Linked DNA regions of Homo sapiens. The protein of the gene in region 1 interacts with the protein of each later gene in a biochemical or structural test. Each region holds a gene or a part of one and is shown in the gene's direction. Other genes may lie near its edges. The genes, in order: TRPV4, DTNA, RAB29, HK1, VCF2, CCDC102B and CYB5R2.

What was found.
Region 2: the proteins of TRPV4 (region 1) and DTNA interact in a test that uses a peptide from one of them, tested with the Homo sapiens proteins (one large-scale study listed by BioGRID).
Region 3: the proteins of TRPV4 (region 1) and RAB29 interact in a test that uses a peptide from one of them, tested with the Homo sapiens proteins (one large-scale study listed by BioGRID).
Region 4: the proteins of TRPV4 (region 1) and HK1 interact in a test that uses a peptide from one of them, tested with the Homo sapiens proteins (one large-scale study listed by BioGRID).
Region 5: the proteins of TRPV4 (region 1) and VCF2 interact in a test that uses a peptide from one of them, tested with the Homo sapiens proteins (one large-scale study listed by BioGRID).
Region 6: the proteins of TRPV4 (region 1) and CCDC102B interact in a test that uses a peptide from one of them, tested with the Homo sapiens proteins (one large-scale study listed by BioGRID).
Region 7: the proteins of TRPV4 (region 1) and CYB5R2 interact in a test that uses a peptide from one of them, tested with the Homo sapiens proteins (one large-scale study listed by BioGRID).

The regions. Positions count from the first base shown.
Region 1 is NC_000012.12:109,782,538-109,785,494, reverse strand, and holds the end of TRPV4 (transient receptor potential cation channel subfamily V member 4), read left to right. Parts: intron 1-1,057; coding exon 1,058-1,179; intron 1,180-1,716; coding exon 1,717-1,874; 3' UTR 1,875-2,406; downstream 2,407-2,957. UniProt on the Homo sapiens protein: Non-selective calcium permeant cation channel involved in osmotic sensitivity and mechanosensitivity. Activation by exposure to hypotonicity within the physiological range exhibits an outward rectification.
Region 2 is NC_000018.10:34,713,260-34,716,811, forward strand, and holds part of DTNA (dystrobrevin alpha), read left to right. Parts: intron 1-3,552. UniProt on the Homo sapiens protein: May be involved in the formation and stability of synapses as well as being involved in the clustering of nicotinic acetylcholine receptors.
Region 3 is NC_000001.11:205,767,476-205,770,026, reverse strand, and holds the end of RAB29 (ras-related protein Rab-7L1), read left to right. Parts: 3' UTR 1-2,041; downstream 2,042-2,551. UniProt on the Homo sapiens protein: The small GTPases Rab are key regulators in vesicle trafficking. Essential for maintaining the integrity of the endosome-trans-Golgi network structure.
Region 4 is NC_000010.11:69,398,811-69,402,398, forward strand, and holds the end of HK1 (hexokinase-1), read left to right. Parts: coding exon 1-18; intron 19-2,180; coding exon 2,181-2,325; 3' UTR 2,326-3,072; downstream 3,073-3,588. UniProt on the Homo sapiens protein: Catalyzes the phosphorylation of various hexoses, such as D-glucose, D-glucosamine, D-fructose, D-mannose and 2-deoxy-D-glucose, to hexose 6-phosphate (D-glucose 6-phosphate, D-glucosamine 6-phosphate, D-fructose 6-phosphate, D-mannose 6-phosphate and 2-deoxy-D-glucose 6-phosphate, respectively).
Region 5 is NC_000023.11:55,147,650-55,151,201, reverse strand, and holds part of VCF2 (protein VCF2), read left to right. Parts: intron 1-3,552.
Region 6 is NC_000018.10:69,053,063-69,055,724, forward strand, and holds the end of CCDC102B (coiled-coil domain-containing protein 102B), read left to right. Parts: intron 1-967; coding exon 968-1,075; 3' UTR 1,076-2,127; downstream 2,128-2,662. UniProt on the Homo sapiens protein: During interphase, forms fibers at the proximal ends of centrioles to maintain centrosome cohesion. During mitosis, dissociates from the centrosome following phosphorylation to allow centrosome separation. Contributes to CROCC/rootletin filament formation.
Region 7 is NC_000011.10:7,670,658-7,674,932, reverse strand, and holds the start of CYB5R2 (NADH-cytochrome b5 reductase 2), read left to right. Parts: upstream 1-1,432; 5' UTR 1,433-1,514; exon of another isoform or gene 1,515-1,552; intron 1,553-2,041; 5' UTR 2,042-2,107; coding exon 2,108-2,185; intron 2,186-2,409; coding exon 2,410-2,482; intron 2,483-4,275. UniProt on the Homo sapiens protein: NADH-cytochrome b5 reductases are involved in desaturation and elongation of fatty acids, cholesterol biosynthesis, drug metabolism, and, in erythrocyte, methemoglobin reduction.

The DNA.
Region 1 (2,957 bases):
GTGAGCCGAGATTGCACTACTGCACTCCAGTCTGGCGGACAGAGCAAGACTCTGCCTTAAAACAAACAAACAAAAATGAATAGATAGGATAAAAAATTAAAGATAATATGTAAAAAAAAAAGATAATATATAAAAAAATGAGTGGATAAACAAAATGTGGGCTATGTGTACAGTGAAATATTATCTGGGCCAGGCGTGGTGACTGTAATACCAACACTTTGGGAAGCGAGGCAAGAGGATTGCTTGAGCCCAGGAGTTCAAGACCAACATAGTGAAACCCCATCTCTACAAAACGTTTTTAAAAAATTAGCCAGGTGTGGTGGCATATCCCTGTAATCCCAGCTACATGGGGGGCTGAAGTGGGCGGATCACTTGAGCCTGGGAGGTCAAGGTTGCAGTGAGCTGTGATCGTGCCACTGCACCCTAGCCTGGGCAATGGAGTGAGACCCTGTCTCAAAAGAAGGTTAAAAAAAATAATTTCTGCTTGGGGGAATGGAAGAATTTTGGAAATAGATAGCTGTGATGGTCACACAATGTGGATGTGCTTAATGCCACTGAATTGTATACTCAAAAATGATTAAGATGGCAAATTTTTTGTGTGTGTATACACACACACACACACACACACACACACGTCTTTTTTTTTTTTTTTTTGAGATGGAGTCTTGCTTTGTCCCCCAGGTTGGAGTGCAGTGGCGTGATCTCGGCTCACTGCAACTGCCTCCCAGGTTCAAGTGATTTTCCTGCCTCAGCCTCTCGGGTCACTGGGACTATAGGCACCCGCCACCATGCCCCGCTAATTTTTTTTTTAATTTTTTTTAATTTTTAGTAGAGGTGGGGTTTCACCATGTTGGCCAGGCTGGTCTCGAACTCCTGACCTCAAATGACCCACCCACCTCGGCCTCCCAAAGTGCTGGGATTGCAGGCATGAGCCACCACGCCCAGCCTTGTTATGTATATGTTACCATAATAAAAAAATAGGAGGGTGTGCTGGGGATGGTGGCATGGAGAGCGTCTCTGAGGGGTTCCCCATGACCCTCTGCTTGGGCCCTGCCAGGGTGGATGAGGTGAACTGGTCTCACTGGAACCAGAACTTGGGCATCATCAACGAGGACCCGGGCAAGAATGAGACCTACCAGTATTATGGCTTCTCGCATACCGTGGGCCGCCTCCGCAGGGGTGAGTGGAGGGGCGGGTGCGGAGGGGAGCCCCAGTCCATTCTCATCACGAATTTGCTTTGAGCAGTCCTGCTTCTTTCCGGGACTCAGTGTCCGTGTCTACAGAATGAGAGAGTGTGCCCCTGAGCTTCCTCTGCTGCTTGTGAATGCCTGGGGCACCTCACCTACGTGGCTTCATCCTGGCCCTCCCTACTGTTGACATAAGCTGGCCTGGGGAGGGAGGACGAGCTCCTCAGCCATCCCTGTGTGGAGAAAACCTTCCTGTTTGTCCAGTAAGCCATGAGCACGCGAGACGCAGCTGGAGAGGACACAGGCACTCAGGGCATTCGGCTCCAGGCTTGAATCCTGGTTCCTCCATTCTCTCCTGGGGAGGCACCTTGACCTCTCTTGAGCCCCAGTTTCCACCTCTGTAAAATGAGCATAGTCACATCCCCCCTTCAGAACACTGTGGAGTGCCCAGTACACAGTAGGCACTCAATATACGCACGCTCTCTCTCCACCAACCCCCACCCCTCCCTCTGATGTGCTCTCGGTGCAGATCGCTGGTCCTCGGTGGTACCCCGCGTGGTGGAACTGAACAAGAACTCGAACCCGGACGAGGTGGTGGTGCCTCTGGACAGCATGGGGAACCCCCGCTGCGATGGCCACCAGCAGGGTTACCCCCGCAAGTGGAGGACTGATGACGCCCCGCTCTAGGGACTGCAGCCCAGCCCCAGCTTCTCTGCCCACTCATTTCTAGTCCAGCCGCATTTCAGCAGTGCCTTCTGGGGTGTCCCCCCACACCCTGCTTTGGCCCCAGAGGCGAGGGACCAGTGGAGGTGCCAGGGAGGCCCCAGGACCCTGTGGTCCCCTGGCTCTGCCTCCCCACCCTGGGGTGGGGGCTCCCGGCCACCTGTCTTGCTCCTATGGAGTCACATAAGCCAACGCCAGAGCCCCTCCACCTCAGGCCCCAGCCCCTGCCTCTCCATTATTTATTTGCTCTGCTCTCAGGAAGCGACGTGACCCCTGCCCCAGCTGGAACCTGGCAGAGGCCTTAGGACCCCGTTCCAAGTGCACTGCCCGGCCAAGCCCCAGCCTCAGCCTGCGCCTGAGCTGCATGCGCCACCATTTTTGGCAGCGTGGCAGCTTTGCAAGGGGCTGGGGCCCTCGGCGTGGGGCCATGCCTTCTGTGTGTTCTGTAGTGTCTGGGATTTGCCGGTGCTCAATAAATGTTTATTCATTGACGGTGGAGATGGCAGGATGATGGCAGGGGTGGGAGGGATGGTAACAGGCATGAGACTGCAGCGAGGGAGATGGGAGAGCTAGGAAATGCCTGGGGGGAGCCAGGGGCAGGGGTGAGAGTGAGGGCAGAAGTCCTGACCGGGAGGCATTTAGAGTGTTGGTGGTTGGGGGCTGGACTGGGTGGTTGTGATGGTGGTGGTGGTGGCCTGAGAGGTGGCTGAGGTTGGTGTGGCTGTGGGGAAGGTGGGGGTGGAGGGAGGAGAGCAGAGTGATGCTGGTGGGGGTAATAATGCTGGCCAGGGAGAGTCATGTTGGCAGGGCGAGAGTGATGCTGGTGGGGGTGACAGTAGTGCTGGCTGGGGGATAATGATCCCCATGGAGACAGTACATTTGGGCAGGGGAGAGTAACGCTGGCCAGGGGTTGACAGTGCAGGTGCGGGGACTCTGGTGCTCATCAGGGGACAATTATACTGGGAGGGCTGTCCTGCTAGGCGGGAGGATGGTTGCCAGGCAGCACGGAGCAGGCGTGGCAGTGGGTGAGCCTGGAGTGTCAGCAGG
Region 2 (3,552 bases), on another chromosome or scaffold:
GGAAATTACTAATGGGTAGTATGATTCTCAGAAATTAACCCTCAAATTTAATTAATTATGTTAATAGCATTTATAAGTCACTAGGAATAGAGGTGCTTGGTATGTTATTATCAGACTTTATTATAAAATATCTTGGTTTTGTTCAATAAGCGATAGAGGCTGTCATCAAAAATGATTAAACTTAGATATGCAGCGTTATTTCTGAGGGCTCTGTTCTGTTCCATTGATCTATATCTCTGTTTTGGTACCAGTACCATGCTGTTTTGGTTACTGTAGCCTTGTAGTATAGTTTGAAGTCAGGTAGTGTGATGCCTCCAGCTTTGTTCTTTTGGCTTAGGATTGACTTGGCGATGCGGGCTCTTTTTTGGTTCCATATGAACTTTAAAGTAGTTTTTTCCAATTCTGTGAAGAAAGGCATTGGTAGCTTGATGGGGATGGCATTGAATCTGTAAATTACCTTGGGCAGTATGGCCATTTCCACGATATTGATTCTTCCTACCCATGAGCATGGAATGTTTGTATCCTCTTTTATTTCCTTGAGCAGTGGTTTGTAGTTCTCCTTGAAGAGGTCCTTCACATCCCTTGTAAGTTGGATTCCTAGGTATTTTATTCTCTTTGAAGCAATTGTGAATGGGAGTTCACTCATGATTTGGCTCTCTGTCTGTTGTTGGTGTATAAGAATGCTGATCTTTGACAAACCTGAGAAAAACAAGCAATGGGGAAAGGATTCCCTATTTAATAAATGGTGCTGGGAAAACTGGCTAGCCATATGTAGAAAGCTGAAACTGGATCCCTTCCTTACACCTTATACAAAAATCAATTCAAGATGGATTAAAGACTTAAACGTTAGACCTAACACCATAAAAACCCTAGAAGAAAACCTAGGCATTGCCATTCAGGACATAGGCATGGGCAAGGACTTCATGTCTAAAACACCAAAAGCAATGGCAACAAAAGACAAAATTGACAAATGGGATCTAATTAAACTAAAGAGCTTCTCCACAGCAAAAGAAACTACCATCAGAGTGAACAGGCAACCTACAAAATGGGAGAAAATTTTCGCAACCTACTCATCTGACAAAGGGCTAATATCCAGAATCTACAATGAACTCAAACAAATTTACAAGAAAAAAAACAAACAACCCCATCAAAAAGTGGGCAAAGGACATGAACAGACACTTCTCAAAAGAAGACATTTATGCAGCCAAAAAACACATGAAAAAATGCTCACCATCACTGGCCATCAGAGAAATGCAAATCAAAACCACAATGAGATACCATCTCACACCAGTTAGAATGGCAATCATTAAAAAGTCAGGAAACAACAGGTGCTGGAGAGGATGTGGAGAAATAGGAACACTTTTACACTGTTGGTGGGACTGTAAACTAGTTCAACCATTGTGGAAGTCAGTGTGGCGATTCCTCAGGGATCTAGAACTAGAAATACCATTTGACCCAGCCACCCATAAATCATGCTGCTATAAAGACACATGCACACGTATGTTTATTGTGGCATTATTCACGATAGCAAAGACTTGGAACCAAGCCAAACGTCCAACAATGATAGACTGGATTAAGAAAATGTGGCACATACACACCATGGAATACTATGCAGCCATAAAAAATAATGAGTTCATGTCCTTTGTAGGGACATGGATGAAACTGGAAATCATCACTCTCAGTAAACTATCGCAAGAACAAAAAACCAAACACCGCATATTCTCACTCATAGGTGGGAATTGAACAATGAGATCACATGGACACAGGAAGGGGAATATCACACTCTGGGGACTGTTGTGGGATGGGGGGAGGGGGGAGGGATAGCATTGGGAGATATACCTAATGCTAGATGACGAGTTAGTGGGTGCAGCACACCAGCATGGCACATGTATACATATGTAACTAACCTGCACAATGTGCACATGTACCCTAAAACTTAAAGTATAATAATAAAAAATAGAAAAAAAAATGATTAAACTTATCAAGAATTGTACAATGTGTGGGTCAGTATCTGACAGGAAAAATGCAAACTCATTTCTAGGAAAGAACAATTAGTTATATTTTTAGTATATAAAGGGGCAATTAACTGGTCTTCACTTCATGGTATTATTAGCTGGATATTTTAGAGTGGTATTACTATAATAATTCCCCACTCTCAAACACACATGTTATGAAATGTTCACTAGACACCATTTCAATATTTTAATTGTTTTTAATTTTTTAATTATTTATTTTAAATAAACAATATTTTATATCTGAAACCTGTTAATTTTGATTTGTTTGGTGGAACATTTACTCAGAAAAATTACTTACCTCTACACATCCCTGACATGAAAGAAAATACTGGATGGATTGGCAATTCCAGTATAAAATATGGATCTATGAAAGTAGTGAAAGAAAATATAGAACTTATGATAGAAAAGGATGACCTCAAAGACAAAAATCATAAAGGAATGGTAATATGAAAACTTACTCCTTCTAGAATATGTTATATACAAAATTAAAAAGATAAATGGCAAATTAGAAACAACATTTGCAACATATATGAAAGAGAAAAAGTGAATATCCATGTTATGTAATGAGGTCTCATAAATCTGTAAGAAAAAGCACTTCCCTTTTAATTTTAAAAATATCTACAAATTAAACACATGTCATTTTAATAATTAGCAACTATTTTTTAAAGGGGAAAGCAAAAGGAGGAAGGGGGAGATAATGTCTGGTTTAGGAAAAGTCTGGAAAATGGGAACACATATACACTGCTATCATATAGCAGTGTACACTGGGTGCAGGTGGGGAGTTGATCAAGCTGGCAATGTGTAGCAAAGTCTTTAAAAATTGCATATCCTTGGGCCCTACAGTTCTACTACTAGGAATATGTCCTAACAAAATAAATAGTCTAACGTATTTACATAGTTTTTCGTTGTTTCAGACAATAGCAGTCTGAAAAAGAAAATCCAAGAAATATAGAAAACACATGAGCTCGTATTTCCTCTCTAGAAGCTATAAAGCTGTAAGAAGTCGGCCGGGCACCGTGGCTCACACCTGTTATCCCAACACTTTGGGAGGCCGAGGCGGGTGGATCGCCTGAGATCAGGAGTTGGAGACCAGCCTGGCCAACGTAGTGAAACCCCATCTGTCCTAAAAATACAAAAAATTAGCTGGGCGTGGTGGCAGGCGCCTGTAATCCCAGCTACTTGTGAGGCTGAGGCAAGAGAATCGCTTGAACCCAGGAGGCGGAGGTTGCAGTGAGCCGAGATCACACCATTGTACTCCGGCCTGGGCAACAAGAGTGAAACTCCATCTCAATTAAAAGAAAGAAAGAAAAAAAGCTGCAAGAAGTCATAGACATGGCTATATGCTGGTCTAACTGTTGACTTCCCAACTCTTTAGATGGAACATGTATAGGCAACATGGTGTAGAAAAAGAGTCTTGGCTTAAGAATTGGAATGCCTGAATCATGCTACTAACTAGCTGAGTTAATATAAATATGCAAATTTATGAAATTATTAAAATAATAATGTTAAAGAGTAGAAAAGTCTGTGAATCCCTTTA
Region 3 (2,551 bases), on another chromosome or scaffold:
TCATAATTCTCACCTACTTCTGAGCTTATTTTTCCATTTGATATTCATTGATATCATGACTTCCAATTGAGAGGAAAATGAGATCAAATGTCATTTCCCAAATTTCTTGTAGGCCGTTGTTTCAGATTCTTTCTGTCTTGGAATGTAAACATCTGATTCTGGAATGCAGAAGGAGGGGGTCTGGGCATCTGTGGATTTTTGGCTACTAGAAGTGTCCCAGAAGTCACTGTATTTTTGAAACTTCTAACGTCATAATTAAGTTTCTCTTGTCTTGGCATCAAGAATAGTCAAGTTTTTTGGCCGGGCATGGTGGCTCATGCCTGTAATCCCAGCACTTGGGGAGGCCAAGGCAGGCGGATCACATGAGGCCAGGAATTCGAGACCAACCTGGTCAGCATGGCAAAACCCCGTCTCTACTAAAAGTACAAAAATTAGCCAGGCGTGATGGCACGTGTCTGTAATCCCAGCTACTCTGGAGACTGAGGTGGGAGAATCGCTTGAGACTGGGAGGCAGAGGTTGCAGTGAACCGAGATCATGCCACCGCACTTCAGCCTGGGTGACAGAGAAGGACTCCGTCTCAAAAAAAAAAGAAAAAAGAATAGTCATTTTTAAACTACCTATCTCATGCAATGAAAGCATTTTCTTCCACAAAGAGCTTAATCCTCATGATAGGATTGCCTAGTGTCTCCCATTTGCAGGTTTCTGGGTTGATGTCTTAATGCATAATACTGCAAGTGACATCAGCTGGCTGTGATGCTTCGAAATAGGTCTGCTCCTCACAGCTTTGGGAATCTGAATGGAAGAAGAAAAGAGAGAAGTTAACAACCTCCACTGGGGCAACTTTGTGAACACGTAGGCACTTAGTCATAGGAAACATATTATGTGCAGGTCCTAGCCTGGGGGAGGAAAGTAGATAGACAGAAAATCATTAGGTAATTTAAGTACTAAATTGGGCAGGGCTTTTTAGTATCAAATCACTACTAGACCATTTAATTTGTTAAATTATCTCTAGGATGGTGATTTATAACCTACCCAAAGTTATCGATATTCTTACTAAACTCTGAGGCCTGAAGTTCTGTGATAGACCTTAAATAAGTGTCCTAAGTCAGTGGTTCCCAAATCTGGCTGGTCGGGAATACCTGGGAAGTTTGTTAAAATTTTTTAAAAATGTTTTAAGATTTTTGGGTCCTGAGCCAGCCGTGGTGGCTCACACCTGTAATCCCAGCACTTTGGGAGGCTGAGGCAGGTGGATCGCCTGAGGTCAGGAGTTCAAGATCAACCTGGCCAACATACTGAAACCCCGTCTCTACTAAAAATAAGAAAAATTAGCTGGGCGTGGTGGCGGGCACCTGTAATCCCAGCTACTTGGGAGACTGAGGCAGGAGAATCGCTTGAACCTGGGAGTTAGAGGTTGCAGTGAGCTGAGATCACACCATTGCGCTTCAGCCTGGGCAACAAGAGTGAAACTCCATCTCCAAAAAAAAAAAACAAAAAGAAAAAGATTTTTGGGTCCCGACCTCAAACCTACTGAATCAGAATTTCTAGGGATGAAGCCTAGGAATGTGTTGTTGTTTTCAGAGCTTCCCTGGTGATTGTGATAAGCCTGGTTTGGAAACCATTGCTGGAGAACTTTGTAAAGATACAGAGACCCAGACCTTTTGTATTTACATTTAAATACAAATACAAATCCTGGGTTTCTATATATTCTGTTAGCTTTTCAGGTGATTCTGCTACACAGACGTTGAAAACCACTGCCCTAAGAAAGAGATCAGAGGCCACATATCAGAGAGAAAAGGGACCAAACCTTCGGTGGTTTGTTGTGTGTCGTTTTAATGCCAATTATTTTAACTTGCACAGTCTTCTGAAACCTTGTATTAATAGTTCTCTTTTGTATTACCATTTTCAGGTAGGGTTTTGATCACTATGATTCTGAAGATAATAGTGAAATAGTGAATTTCATTGATATGAAGAGATAATTGATTTTCATTCATTGGTTTGAACACCTGCAAAATCACAAATAAATGAGAACTAAGTCTTGTATTCATGGTGGTTATTGGCCTTTAATGTGAGTTTGTCAAAGTGCTGTTTTATACTGATAGCTCAAGAGGATTGCGGAAATGGAGACTTTATTTTTTAAATACCTTTTTCTAAATTTTCAATTCAAGGGGTACGTGTGCAAGTTTGTTACATGGATATATTGTGTGATGCTAAAGCTTGGGTTTCTGCTTAGCCTGTCTCCCAAGTAGTGAACATAGCACCCAGTCGGCACTTTTTCAACGCTTACTCCCTCTCTCCCCACTTTTGGGAGTCTCCAGTGTCTGTTGTTCCCATCTTTATGTGTGTGCCCAATGTTTACCTCCCACTTACAAGTGAGAAATGTGGTTAAATACCTTCTTTTAAAATGAAGGTAAATATTATTCTGTTTACCTGTTAACTTACTAATACCAATTGCTTAGATCCATCTGCCTAGTACCAATTCAGTACTTGATGGAACATGCCAAATACTACTTGGAAACGTGACCTTTTTGAAAAACTGAATGTGCTTGCTTT
Region 4 (3,588 bases), on another chromosome or scaffold:
CTACAAGCTTCATCCACAGTGAGTGGGCCTTCCAGTTGGGATGCGCAGAGCTTGCTGGGATCCCTTTGGGTTAGGGGGTATCAGGGTGTGGTTTACGCTGGGGAAATGCCCTGCGGGAGCCCAGCCAGGCTGAAGGCTGTGCGTTCAGGAGCTGGGGATTGTCTAGGACAAGGTAATGAACAGTTTGTAGGGTTTGACTGGGATCCTTAGGGAGACAGAGAAGTGGCTTCACTTGGCCAGCTCACACCAGTGGCATGATGTGACCCTCACCCCACTCCTCCTGGTCCCCCTTAGGTGGGGGCTAGGCAGTGGGAGAGGAGGTGAGGGTGGGCGTGGGCTCACTCATAAGCCTGGTGAGCTGTAGCCAGGCCAGAGGCTCTGTTGGGTAAGTGGGGAGAGGATATTAAGAAAGGGGAGGAGCTGGGTGCAGTGGTTCACACCTGTAATCCAGCACTTTGGGAGGCCTAGGTGGGAGGACTGCTTCAGTCCAGGAGTTTGAGACCAGCCTAGGCAACATAGTGAGACCTTGTCTGTACAAAAAAATTTTGAAAATTAGCCAGGGATGGTGGTGAATGCCTGTAGTCCCAGCTACTCGGGAGGCTGAGGGAAGAGGATTGCTTGAGCCTGGGAGGTGGAGGTTGCAGTGAGCCCAGATCACGCCACTGTACTCCAGCCTGGGCAACAGAGTGAGACCCTATTTCAAAAAATAAAATAGGAAAGGAGGATAGCCACTCTCTTGTTCATCTGCTGAATCAGTTTGCTAAGACTTGGAAGGGCGGGAGCGGTTTGGGCCCTGGGCTTCATGGCAGGGAGGGGTAGGGAGTGGCCTCCCTCTGGTCAGGCATCTGACCCCCCATGCCAGAGAAGGACATGTGATTGCACTTGCTGTGTGATTGTGATCCACCGCATGTCTCACCTTATGAATAGGGTGACCATATTATTTATTTATTGTCTACACTAGGGTACTCTTGCCAGTCAAGAGTGCTAATAATTATTACTCTGGGACTGTAGGCAAACTAGGACCATCCCAGATAAATGAGGCCATAGTGTCACCCTACTTATAAGCAACCTCACCCGACTCAGTGTAGACATTACCTGCTTACCTCATGGCCGTGGCTTGGGGTGGAACCATCTGTCTTGCTCCATCCTCACCTCTGTCTCTCCCCCTTAATAGCTGTCCTTGCCATCAGCTGAGGCAGCACACAGGAGTGGTTTAGAGCTAGGCTTTGGAGCCACATACTCTTGGATTTAACCCTGGCACCGTCACTTAGAATCTGTGTGCAATTGCTTAATCCCTGCAAAATCTCATCTTCCTCATGAGGTGGCAGCCACTGGCAGGACTAGAAATTAGAGCTGTAAAATATGGGGCACCTAGTAGGTCCTCAAACTCCTTGGCTCAAGTGATCCTCCCACCTTGGCCTCCCAAAGTGCTGGCATGAGCCACCGCACTCCGCCCACCTAATAGGTCCCCAACCAAGGACAGTGACTACTTTTGAGAGCCCCTCACCACAAGCATCTTCAGCCTGGCCCTGCCCTTCATTTTGAGCCCAACTTACAAGCATGTAGATTCAGCCTTTGTTCAGATACTATCTTCACTGGAAGGCATTCCTGTCTTTGGGGGCCAGGCTGTTGATGGTGGGGCGCTGGGGGTCTCAGGGTTGCAGCTGGAGATGGGTGATATTCATTCCTGCATAGCCTCCTGAACCGATCCAGTGCTTGGCTGGCTTGCACCTGCCTTAATGATCCATGTCAGCCCCTAACATCCTCCTTGGTTTTGAGGTCCCCCTGGAGCCTCAAGCTCCGATGTGGGTGTGTGTGTTATTCATGTCCTAGCCTTCATAAGCCATACAGAGCAGTTGTGTTTGGATTCGCAGTTGGGCCTCCCTGCTGAAAACTGTGACAATGGGATTGACCGTGGGCCCACTTTCCTCCCAGCCATTCTCAACTGGCCACAGCTGCTTCTAAGCAGCCTGCCTCCCAACCATGTTCACCCTCCTTGTTGTTGGGTTCAGAGTCTCTTTGACTTCCGATGCTTATGTCCTGATAAACCCATCACAAAGTCGAAGAATCCTAAGTCGAATCATCACCAGTCAGGGGGCTGTCTGTGCTTTGGTGTTTTCGGGTAGGCCCAGCGTCTCTCATCTTCCTCCAACTACCTTCTGTTTTCTCGTCCTTTTTAGCTTCTCCAGAATCATGCACCAGACGGTGAAGGAACTGTCACCAAAATGTAACGTGTCCTTCCTCCTGTCTGAGGATGGCAGCGGCAAGGGGGCCGCCCTCATCACGGCCGTGGGCGTGCGGTTACGCACAGAGGCAAGCAGCTAAGAGTCCGGGATCCCCAGCCTACTGCCTCTCCAGCACTTCTCTCTTCAAGCGGCGACCCCCTACCCTCCCAGCGAGTTGCGCTGGGAGACGCTGGCGCCAGGGCCTGCCGGCGCGGGGAGGAAAGCAAAATCCAACTAATGGTATATATTGTAGGGTACAGAATAGAGCGTGTGCTGTTGATAATATCTCTCACCCGGATCCCTCCTCACTTGCCCTGCCACTTTGCATGGTTTGATTTTGACCTGGTCCCCCACGTGTGAAGTGTAGTGGCATCCATTTCTAATGTATGCATTCATCCAACAGAGTTATTTATTGGCTGGAGATGGAAAATCACACCACCTGACAGGCCTTCTGGGCCTCCAAAGCCCATCCTTGGGGTTCCCCCTCCCTGTGTGAAATGTATTATCACCAGCAGACACTGCCGGGCCTCCCTCCCGGGGGCACTGCCTGAAGGCGAGTGTGGGCATAGCATTAGCTGCTTCCTCCCCTCCTGGCACCCACTGTGGCCTGGCATCGCATCGTGGTGTGTCAATGCCACAAAATCGTGTGTCCGTGGAACCAGTCCTAGCCGCGTGTGACAGTCTTGCATTCTGTTTGTCTCGTGGGGGGAGGTGGACAGTCCTGCGGAAATGTGTCTTGTCTCCATTTGGATAAAAGGAACCAACCAACAAACAATGCCATCACTGGAATTTCCCACCGCTTTGTGAGCCGTGTCGTATGACCTAGTAAACTTTGTACCAATTCAAAGACCCGAGTGATGCTTAATGGCTGGGGACGGGGGGACAGGCAGAGGGGGGTGCAGTTTCTTGGGATGTGGCAAAGACCAAACACTGGGGAGTTTTGTGGCCTTCTGGGCGGAGGAGTTTTTTTTTTTGAGATGGAGTCTTGCCCTGTCACCCAGGCTGGAGTGCAGTGGCACAATCTCAGCTCAGTGCAACCTCTGCCTCCCGAGTTCAAGTGATTCTCCTGCCTCAGCCTCCTGAGTAGTTGAGACTACAGGCGTGCATCCCCACACCCAGCTAATTTTTGTATTTTTAGTAGAGAAGGGGTTTCACCATGTTGGCCAGGCTGGTCTCCAACTCCTGACCTCAAGTGATCTGCCTGCCTTGGCCTCCTAAAGTGCTGGGATTATAGAACAAGGCCACTTGGCTTCCAGGCTGCTTGGGTTCAGTGAGAGGACTGCAACACTGGTCCCCTCTCTGCCATCCCCACCCGGATCCTGCCCTTCATCTTCCTCTCTGCCAACCCCAAGACAAAGGATGA
Region 5 (3,552 bases), on another chromosome or scaffold:
TTCAATTGTGTCCTGTTACAAAAGAAAACAGAGTCTTATCAATTTTTTGCAAATAACTATACTACCATAAACTACGTATACTTGCAAATAGTTTTCAAATTCTGGAAAAATCAGGTAGAAATATGCTTCAGATTTTTCTCACACTAACATAGTTAACCCAATATTAAAAGCTGCAAAATAGCTCAAAGAAAAATGGTTTTCTGGACTCAGAAACAAAAGTTAGAAAAAGAAACAATGTTACAAATTCAGAAACAAAAGTTTCTGAGTTTCAAACAATGTTTCGAAGTCACAAAAAGATTATTTCAGTTTTCCATTAGTTTCATCTGGGTAATTAACTCCTGTTCTGCTCAATGTTTATGAACACATTAGCTCTCTGTGGGAGTCTTGGAAGTTTTTCCTCTATTCTAGTATCACAGTCTCCAAAGTTATCAGAAGCCTGCATTCAAGAGTACCTGTCAGAGTCCTATAGCTGATTATAAAACCACCTTTTGAAAGTGATAAAAGTAAAACAACTATGAATGACAAGAGTCTTAGAACAGTCATAAAGACATAATTGACAAGGAAATTTGGTTACTTCTGTGGCTTACAACTATTTTACATAATCATTATTACTACTGATAACATATACCAGAGGTTCCCAATCCCTGGGCTGCAGACTGGTACTGGTCCACGGCCTCTTAGGAACCAGGCCGCACAGCAGGAGGTGAGTGGTGGGCAAGCGAGAAATACTGCCTGAGCTCTGCCTCCTGTCAGGTCAGCAGCAGCATTAGATTCTCATAGGAGCGCAAACTCTGTTGTAAACTGCACATGTGAGGGATCTAGGCTGTGTGTTCCTTATGAGAATCTAATACCTAAAGATCTGAGTGGAACAGTTTCATCCTGAAACCATCCCTTCCTTCCCCCATCTGTGGAAAAATTGTCTTCTACAAAACCGGTCCCAAGTGCCAAAAAGGTTGGGGACTGCTGACATGTACCAAGACATATCAGAATCACAGGAATTTCATACAATTCTGAAACACATACTAATAACACATTTATATAAATATAATCCAAGGGTTAAATGCCATTTTATATTTGACAATACTTCTTGTATGATTGTATTATATCAAATAACCCAAATATGTCTCTTTTGGGCGTCAGGGGACCTAATATTAAAAGATTAATGAGGACCAAATTTAGAATTTTATTTTGGAAAGTTTGTCAACTAGAAAAAGTTAAAAACACTTGATATCACAAAATAGGATCAAAAGTCATTGTAAAATAAGTCATTCATTTAGCTGAGTGATAGATTTCAAAGAAAGACAAAAGTTTTTATTTTTTTGAGACAGGAGACTTAATTTCCCAAACCATAAGCTTTCATAAAGACAACATGAGGCCCATTAAATCTGTCTTTTAAATTTTTCCAAACAAATTTATTAAGTTTTGGTCATCTTGACCATAAGATATAATTTCAATAAATTTTTTCATAACCTTTATTTTTCTTTAATTAAGAAATGGGTTAATGCGCCAAGAAAACCTTGTTACTCTGACATCGGGGCCCAGATGCTGGTCTTGCATCAGTGTGCCTTCAATATTAATAGTTAATTTATAGAGAAACTGAACTAATTTTATCTCTCAAAATTGGCCGTTACAATCTCACACACCCACCTCTTCCATGATAGTCCCTGGGCCTTGAGGAATTTAATAGTTTTAATTTCTGGCCTTGTGCCTTATGAACACAGTGTATTTTGATTGGTATCTTCTACTGGGTCTGAAGATAAGGCTTTAACTGCTGTCATTGTTTAAGATTTAGCAAGACTTGGTGTTCTTTTTATATCCAGGAGTCAACGCCCTGTAACTTAAAGGCACAAGGACTTTAAAAGCAAGAAAGTTACGTGGATATAGTAACCTTGATTTAAAAGAAAAATTTAACCTCAGTTTTTTTCTAAGCAAATTAAAACTTAATAACAATGGCATAGGAGTTATTTTGATAAAATGTAAAATTTGTTAGACCAGTTACCAAAAGGCAAGAAAAAAAAAAAAAAAAACCTCCTGCAGTACAATTGATATTCCCTATGGAAAGTCCATTTAGGTAAGCTGCAAATCAAAACTAATGAAAATGATACTTGAATTAGTTAGACATAGGCAGAGTGTTTCCTGGGTAATAAATGAAAATTTTCAGATTCATGGACAAATTTAAAGCCAAGAGCACAGAATGTTATGTTGGAAGAAAACATTTTCTTTAGACCTTTAAGATAAAACATTTTTAGCATCAGGCTATGACAAACAGTTAGAACCTGAGGAGAAAAATTACAGAAGCTGAAAATGAGTTGAAGGAGAGGGTTATTATCTCAGGCCTTTTCAAGGGGGAGAGAAAGCTGAAAATACAAGATAATAAAAGTTGAAAATTGGGTTAAACAAATTAAAATCCGTTGTAATTTTATTGAGAGTAAATCAATACCTTAAGAAAATTTTGTTGCTCTAACTGATTCTTTAGTGTATGTTTTTTAAAAAATCAAAACCCAATCTCTAAAAAGACTATTATAAATAATTTCCCTTTAATTATAGACAACTTGATACAAATCATTAATGAGATGCTTGGACTTCCTGTTTTATCCCAGACATCTTTCTTTCTTAAATAACCAGTTATTTTAGGACAGAAATTTACCATACAAGATTTTTTCTCATATAAAATTATTTTCCTTTTAACGTTTCTTGCCAAAAATACCCCTTTATATTTATAAAGAGGTAAATATATAGTATGTAAAGAAAGAGACATTTCTTTACATTGCTCTTATTTACTGGTTTCTTTCACCTTGTTTCATAAATAACTTTTAAGTAACCTTTGAATTAGACAAAAATTATTTTCTTTTAAATAAGAAAATATTTTTTAGAAAAATATTTTCCTATAATTTTTTAAAAATTAGAAATCATCCAGATGTTTAATGAGTATTTATTATTTAACTTAATATAACTTTAGATTTTAAATTATATGACAAGTTTATTTACAGGCATTTTTTCTATTACATTTACCTAATTAATTTTTTAAATGGTTTACTCAGATGAAAGCTGTGAATGTCATCATTTAGTTATTTCTCTGTTAACTATTTTTATAGCCTATAAATTTAGGTTTTTCTAAGAACCTGAAGTATAAAGACTTCTGATATAGAATGATATATCATTATTGTTAATGGCTGATGAGATTCTGTTGTATGAATGCATGCACTATAATTTAAATACTTCTTTGTTTTTAAACATTTAGTTATTTCTGATTTTCAGCTAATAAAAATATTGATAGCATAAAAATGTCTTAATGAGCATTTCTATCTGTACACAATTGAGTTTAAAAACTTTTAAAATGAAACAAATTAAAGGTAGATTTTTTTCTTAATAATTATTCTAAAGAAATCCCTTCTAGCCTATGAATTTTTAATGTACACAGCATAGCATCACCCTAGTGTTGCACTACAGTGTAAAATCAATATGTTGTCATTGGAGAAGAAAATTTGATTCATCAGAAATGATTTCTAGTTCTTACCTTATTTTTCAGGCAGTACTGTAACAAAAAAAAAA
Region 6 (2,662 bases), on another chromosome or scaffold:
AGTATATATGAATGTTCAGAGCATCACAGGGCTGGAGACAATATAAATACTCATGGAAAGGAGGGTAGGTATATATGTCATGGCATAGTAATGCAGTGCTATAATAGAGAGGACAAAGAGACCACAGATGAAACATTACTGTAGATGAGTCTTAGCTGTTGGATTTAAAAAGCAAGAATATTACATATAGCATGAAATACCTTTTTTAATTAAAACAATTAAAATGATACATTTTCAATAATATATATAAATATATTTCACATATATATATATATACACTTAGCATATGTATATGTGAATATGTATACATACACGTGTATTTTGTTCAAAGCCATGGGAATAAAAAACACAAGTTATAGTTCAGTGACTTATAGCTAGGGGAGGCAAGAGGGGAAATGGGAGAAGAGTGGCTACATAGAAAGGATTTTGTCAAATATTTCAGAGATCATTTTGAGGTTTATTACTGAATATGTACATTAACTCTATTAAAATAAATGAATATTTTCATTTATTCATGCACATATACAAAAGAAACTCACACATACACTACTGGTAAGTTACTGTCATACAAACATATACCTTGTTTTTAAAGAGTTACTTTATTTCAACTACTTTTTTTTTTCATTAAGAGCTTTTCTTATTAAGATGGAGATAGAAAGCTGTGTCTTATATAGAATGGATCCTCATGTTTTTCAATTTAAATTTTATTTTTAAATTGACAAGTAAAATTTGTACATATTTATGATATACAACATGATGTTTTTCTAAATGTGTACATTGTAGACTAGCTAATCAAGCTACTTAATATATGTACTATTTCAAATACTTATAGTTTTGTGGTGAGAATACTTACAATCTATTCTCTTAGCAATTTTTAAGAATATGATAAGATGTTATTTACTATAGCCACCATGATGTACTATAGAACACTTGAACCTAACTAAAGCATTTTCTACTTCGCTTTCAGCTTGATGATTCCCTGAATCAGATCCGTAAGCTCCAGAGGTCTCTGGATGAAGAGAAAGAAAGAAATGAAAACTTAGAGACTGAACTCAGGCACTTGCAAAACTGGTAATTTTTTCACAAAATATGCTGAATTAAAGATTAGGGCCTTAAAGACATTTCCATATCCTTTTCTTAAATATCAGTAAAATTGTTTTTATTAACTAGAAATATTAATGAAAAAAACGTAGACAATACACAAATTAATGGGCTTCTTCACTTCTTCTAATTTTTGCCTAACAGATACTGCATATTCTCAAAAAGACAATTTAAATGTCATTTAAAAACAACTTTAATTCTAAGATGTGTAAATATTTTGAAAGTCAAAAAGGGCTTTCAGAATACTTTTTACATAAAATCTGAAAGAGTTATAATATCGGTAAGAAAAAGTAAGTTGAAAACCATACAAGACGCTGGGTCATTAATAAGAAAACCATTGACTTTAAGTATAAAGTACTGGTTTGTTTAAATAATTGGTAAACTTTTATGTACGTGTTGTCTATGTGGTGGGGATGGCAGGTTGTATTAACAAAAATGAATCATTCTAGAGGTGTAACAATACATTTCTTATATAATTTTATAAGTCATTTCTAATCTTTGTATAAAACAGAAGTGAGCAGATGAATCAGAAAAAAGTGTTTTGTATTTTAAAGTAACAGATAACCAGTGATTGAATCTAAGACAGGCTGTAAGCATCGCTGAGAAACTAAAAGGACTTTTGACTTTTATCTGGATAGACATTTCTACAGTAAAATCATGGAAAGGCATCAGCATTGCAAAGTAGCATCTAGGTAGAAATCAGGCCAAAATTAAGCTGTGGTTTCCCTCTGAGTAGTGGGAATAGAGAAAATTAGGAAATTGTGGTTATGTGAATATTTCTTTAAAACTTTTATGTACATTATAGTTTATTGCTTCATATTTAAGTTTAGTTTTTAAGGTAAAATGTTATTTTGAACAAAAAGACACTTATAATTTTCCATACCTATTTTCAACTGAAGGCAACTTGTAAGATTTAACTCAGTCAATAACATACTGGTTTTACTCATCTCCCCCTCCATTGATTAGCCAAAAAAAAATGAAATCTTACTAATTCATTATTGAATAAAGACCACTTTTATCAGAGTCTCTCATTGTAAAAGCCTTTGTCATTCACTGAGTCTTCACTTTTTCCCTGTTTCTCTCCCAAACATGGGGGATTGTATGACTAATAGGAACGCAGCACTGAGGGGCAAAGAGGCCCGATCTTCAAGTGCGCACTGGTGTGTGTTTGCTAGGCTGTGTAGTAATGAAATCTATCTTGTCGCTGGGTACTCTTGCTGGGTTCTGATGCTTAAATGTGAACTTCCTTCTCTTTGCTTAACACTCCTCCTGTGAACTGGATCCATCTCAGTGCTTTCTGGTATGACCTCCTCTATCCCATCATATCCCCTGTCAACCAACTGACTGAGCAATTCATCCAGATGGAGCCTTGAGGATGGGCCGCAGGTCAAGGTCTCATCTCAGTCACAATCCCATATGAGAACCAAATACAGTTTGGAGAAGCTAAATATTAGGGTTCCCCTTGCCTGACCATGTTTCTCTGCTTTTCTGTGGCTGTGCCCCAAGTGGGTGTGGGGCAACTGGCAAGGCGTCTTCCTCTCAAGATCCTAAACGCAAGTGG
Region 7 (4,275 bases), on another chromosome or scaffold:
TTCTTATGTTGAAGCCCTAAGCCCCAGTACCTAAGGATATGACCTTATTTGAAGGTAGAGCCTTTACATAGGTAATCAAGTTAAAACAAGGTCATTAGGATGGACCCTAATTGAATATGACTGGTGTCTTCATAAAAGGGGAAATTTGGACACAGGGACACACACAGAGGGATGAAAATGTGGAGACATAGGAAGAAGATGCCCCTTCTCCTAGCCCCTCTCCTACAAACCTAGGAGAGGCATGGAACAGATCCTTCCCTCACAGCCCTCAGAAGGAACCCACTCTGCCCACACCTTGATTTTGGACTTCCAGCCCCCAGACCTGCGAGACAATAAATTTTTGTTGTTTAAGCCGCTCAGTCTGCGGCACTTTGTTACAGCAGCCCTAGCAGAGTCAAACAGGTGGGGATCTGCTTCTGGGCTTCTCTGTTTCACACAGGTCCTGAGGCAAGAATTTGCCTTTGCCTGTAATCAAGGGCGAGCCGGGCAGCCAAGGTTCCGAAACGCACCGTGAAGACCCTCTAACTGTGCCTACTATTCTGCTCCCCTCCGATCGGCGCGGGGCTCTTGTCCTTCCTCTCTCCACCCAGCGAATGAATGAACGCAGGAGCGCTCGGAGTACACGTCTTCAACTCGGCGACGCCCCTGCTTCGGCCCCACCCCGCAAACACCCGCCCCGGACCAGGCCCAGGGTAGGCGCCCATGAGGTATGTCGAATGAATATATTCGCGCGCTCTTTGCAGCTGCCTGAATTCTTCCTTCCCCAGCATCCCCCTCCGCCCGGTCACCCAGACGGCCTTCTCCAGCCTTGCCGAGCTTAAGTAAGCTGAGGGGCGCTCAGTGTGGCAGCTCTGCGTGTGCAGGGAAGGGGCCAGGATGCAGAGGGGCAGCGCAGGAGCGAGGACGCCACGGCTCAGCGCCCCGCCAGCCTCATGATGGAGCGCTGCCCTGGGGGCAGGGCTGACCCAGAGCCAGCGGCTCGTGAGTGAGAGCCCCCCGACCACGGCCCTTCTCGGGGAGCGGGCCAGCCGCCGGGGTCCCAGCCTGCGGGGTCCGCCCGCGCTTTTGTCCTCCCGGGCGTGCGTGTCCGGGTCTCGGCCGGTTCCCCGTCGGCCAGGCGGAGCTGCGGGGCGACGCCACGAGTCTGCGGGCCCGCGGCGGGGAGCGGCCCCCGGCCAACCCCAGTTCGACGACGTGTTGGGCGTCTCACTCCGGGTGGGTTCCGCGGCGGGGTGTATTTATGGAGTATTGAAGAAATATCTCCGTCGGGACGGCCGGAAGGAAAGAGGCCAGAGGCGCGGAGGCCGGCTAGAGCCGGGAACGAACGTCCGACCGGGAGGTTGGGGGCCGGAGCGGGAGGCGTGGGGAGAGGTCGTGGGCGGGACCGCGAAGGGCGGGGAGTGGGGCGGGCCGGCTCGGATTCCGGAAGGCTGAGACTCCAGTGACCCGGCGGGAGGAGAGGCAACTTTCCCTGTCGGGCTTGAGTTGGGAGAGGAGCAGGGCGGCCTTGTAGGGTAGGGACAGATGCGGGGAGGCTCCCGAGTCTCTGGCAGTTGAGTGCCCAGGCCCCCTTCGCCCTGTCCAGGAGACTGTTGGGGAGTCCCCAGGCCCTAAGTCACGGGGCACCTCTTAGAGCTACGCACCCTAGTTCTGTCTTTAGGGACTGGGCCCCTCATTCCGGATTGTGTGTTAGGGGTGATGTCCTCCCCCTTCACCTCAAGGAAGGGACTTCCAGTGTATGAACCTTTGGCTGTAGCCAGGAGGGGCCTAGTGACCTGAGCACCCCAGGCCATGTGTGCTGCCTGCTCCAGGGGCCTGAAACATCCTTCCTGTGTGACCTGCAGCTGACCCCTCCCTACCCTCTGGTCCACGACAGGCTCTCCCAGCCGCCTTCTGTGTCACTACTGTTCTCTTTGCCTATTTCCTGCAGGCAGAGCTCAGCTCCTGTGCCTTTGGTGTGGGGAGGGTGTTCTGCGCCTGAGAGCTGCCCTGTCCAGGGCGGGCAAGACCTGAGGTGCTCTGTTCACATTGTGTCTGCCAGGACCCGTCCCTGCTCCTGACCATCACCGTCACTGGGGTCACTGTGCTCGTGTTGGTCCTGAAGAGCATGAACTCCAGGAGGAGAGAGCCAATCACCTTACAGGACCCTGAAGCCAAGTACCCGCTGCCCTTGATTGAGAAAGAGGTAATGGGTCAGCCCTGTGGGTGGAAGGCAGTAAGTGGATGATGGCTGGGATGGCAGGGCATCCAGACAGTCATCTCATGGCCTCCAGTTCACTCCCCGCCGCCCTGTGTGTGTGTGTGTGTGTGCTGGAATAGCGCCAAACGGACCTCCTTTCCCAGGCATCTCAGCTGCCCAGCAAGGCTTCTAGAAAGCTGACAGAACCTGCCTATGTTTTGTTTTATCAGAAAATCAGCCACAACACCCGGAGGTTCCGCTTTGGACTGCCTTCGCCGGACCATGTCTTAGGGCTTCCTGTAGGTGAGCCGGGCTTGGGTCATCACCAGGACTGGGGCCTCTGGGGGCTAGGCCCTCCTCTCTTAACAGAAACACAGGTTTCCCACGTCCTGAGGTGTGGAAGATGCCCTCTTGCTCCTCCTGAGCCTGTGAGCTCAGGGAGATAGATAGGGGGATGGATGTGGGACAGAAAATTTCTTTTCTTCATTATTCCAATTGGGCTGACACGAGAGTGGTACCTCAGTGAGCATTGAAAAGAACTGAACCTAGAGCCAAAAGGCCTAAAATCTCATGGAAGGCTCCTTGCTGGGGAACTTAAGGGAAGTCCTTCAATCTCTCTGAGCCTCAGTCTATGAAATGGGATTTCCCAGGCCTGCCTGTCTACCTCACTTGGGTTGTTGTGAAAGTAGAGTGACTGATGGATATGAAAATTCAGAAACTACAAAGTATTGTGCACCTGGGAGGGATGGGAGGAACCAGTGGTCGGGGAAAGGCCCAGAATGTGCGGGTAGGCAGGAATGAGTCAGGTGTGCCCTGCCCCCAAGGTCACTTAGATTCTCTGCAGGGGCCTCAGACCCACATAAGGAGGGACCAGCCCTACGAGTTGCAGATTCCAGCCCTAGGAGTCCTAGAGTTGAGTTATCCCATTTCTAATCTGTAACACCACTAGATAGCTGAGTCAGTCTTAGTGCAGTAGAAAACTGCTAGAATCAGGGATTCAGAGCAGCTTTGTATAATCTGCTAGTGCTGCTTGCCTGCCTGGTGGATCCTACTCCGTGGCCTATTTGTCTTATATGCACAGGCCAAAACCTTGACCTCAGCTCTATCAGGTGGTGAGATTACACTCTAGCCAGCTCGCTGGGCCCCTGAGCCTCCTTGCTGTTCCCTCACTCCATCTCTATGCACGAGAGCTCAGTGTTGTGCGTGCCGTCTCTCAGCTCCCTGCTCGGCCTGTCAGGCAGGTCCTGTTGGCAGGAAGCCTAAAAGAATGAAAAACTTTGAGATAGAGAATTGCTTAGAAACTGCCTTGACCCACTATCTCCTCAGCCTTGGCCTAGGCCGTGCAAAGTTAGTGGGACAAGGTAATGTAGAGGCCTCTGGGAGAGTCTAATATGAGGCCTCAGAGTTCGCTGCTTCGTCCCAGCCCAGTGGAAGTGAAGCAAGTTAGAGATGGGGCTTGAAGGACCAGCCAGGGAGCCCCATTTGCCCTGGGGACACCCTCAGGCCAGGCCTAGGTGGCTGCATATGAAAGAGCCTTTCCAGGTTTCCAGTTTCAGGTTCTCAGAAGGAAGCTAGGTGTCTCACTTACTCCTGGCTATCCCTGGTGCCCAGAGGGACCATGACCAGAGTCATTGAGCCTGTTCTGAGCCCAGAGTGTTGGCACCTCAAAGACTTGGCTCATCCCCTTGAATCAGCTTCAGGGACCAGCCCCTCTAGTGCCTACTCTGCCTGCTTTTTTCTCCTCCTGCCTCCTCCTCCTCCCTGCACCTTAGGTCTTGGTTTCTATCCATCTCTCTGTTCCATCTTCCTTGTCTCGACTAATTTCCCGTATGTAGTCCACTCAGTTTCTGAGCGAGTAGAAACTGAGGGAGTAAACTGACTACATACATACAGGAAGTTAGTCAAGGGTTAGGGTTACAAAACTTTCTCTTGCCTCTAGCTCTTAGTATCTCTTGATTGCACTCCTGTCCCTGCCACTAATTGCCTTAGTAATTTGAGTCTCACATTTTGGATCCAACAGGTCGTAGCTGCCCAGTGTGTCATCTGACAGTGGGATGTAGTCATGATCCATAGGTCTCTGGCCACACCTGGTTTAT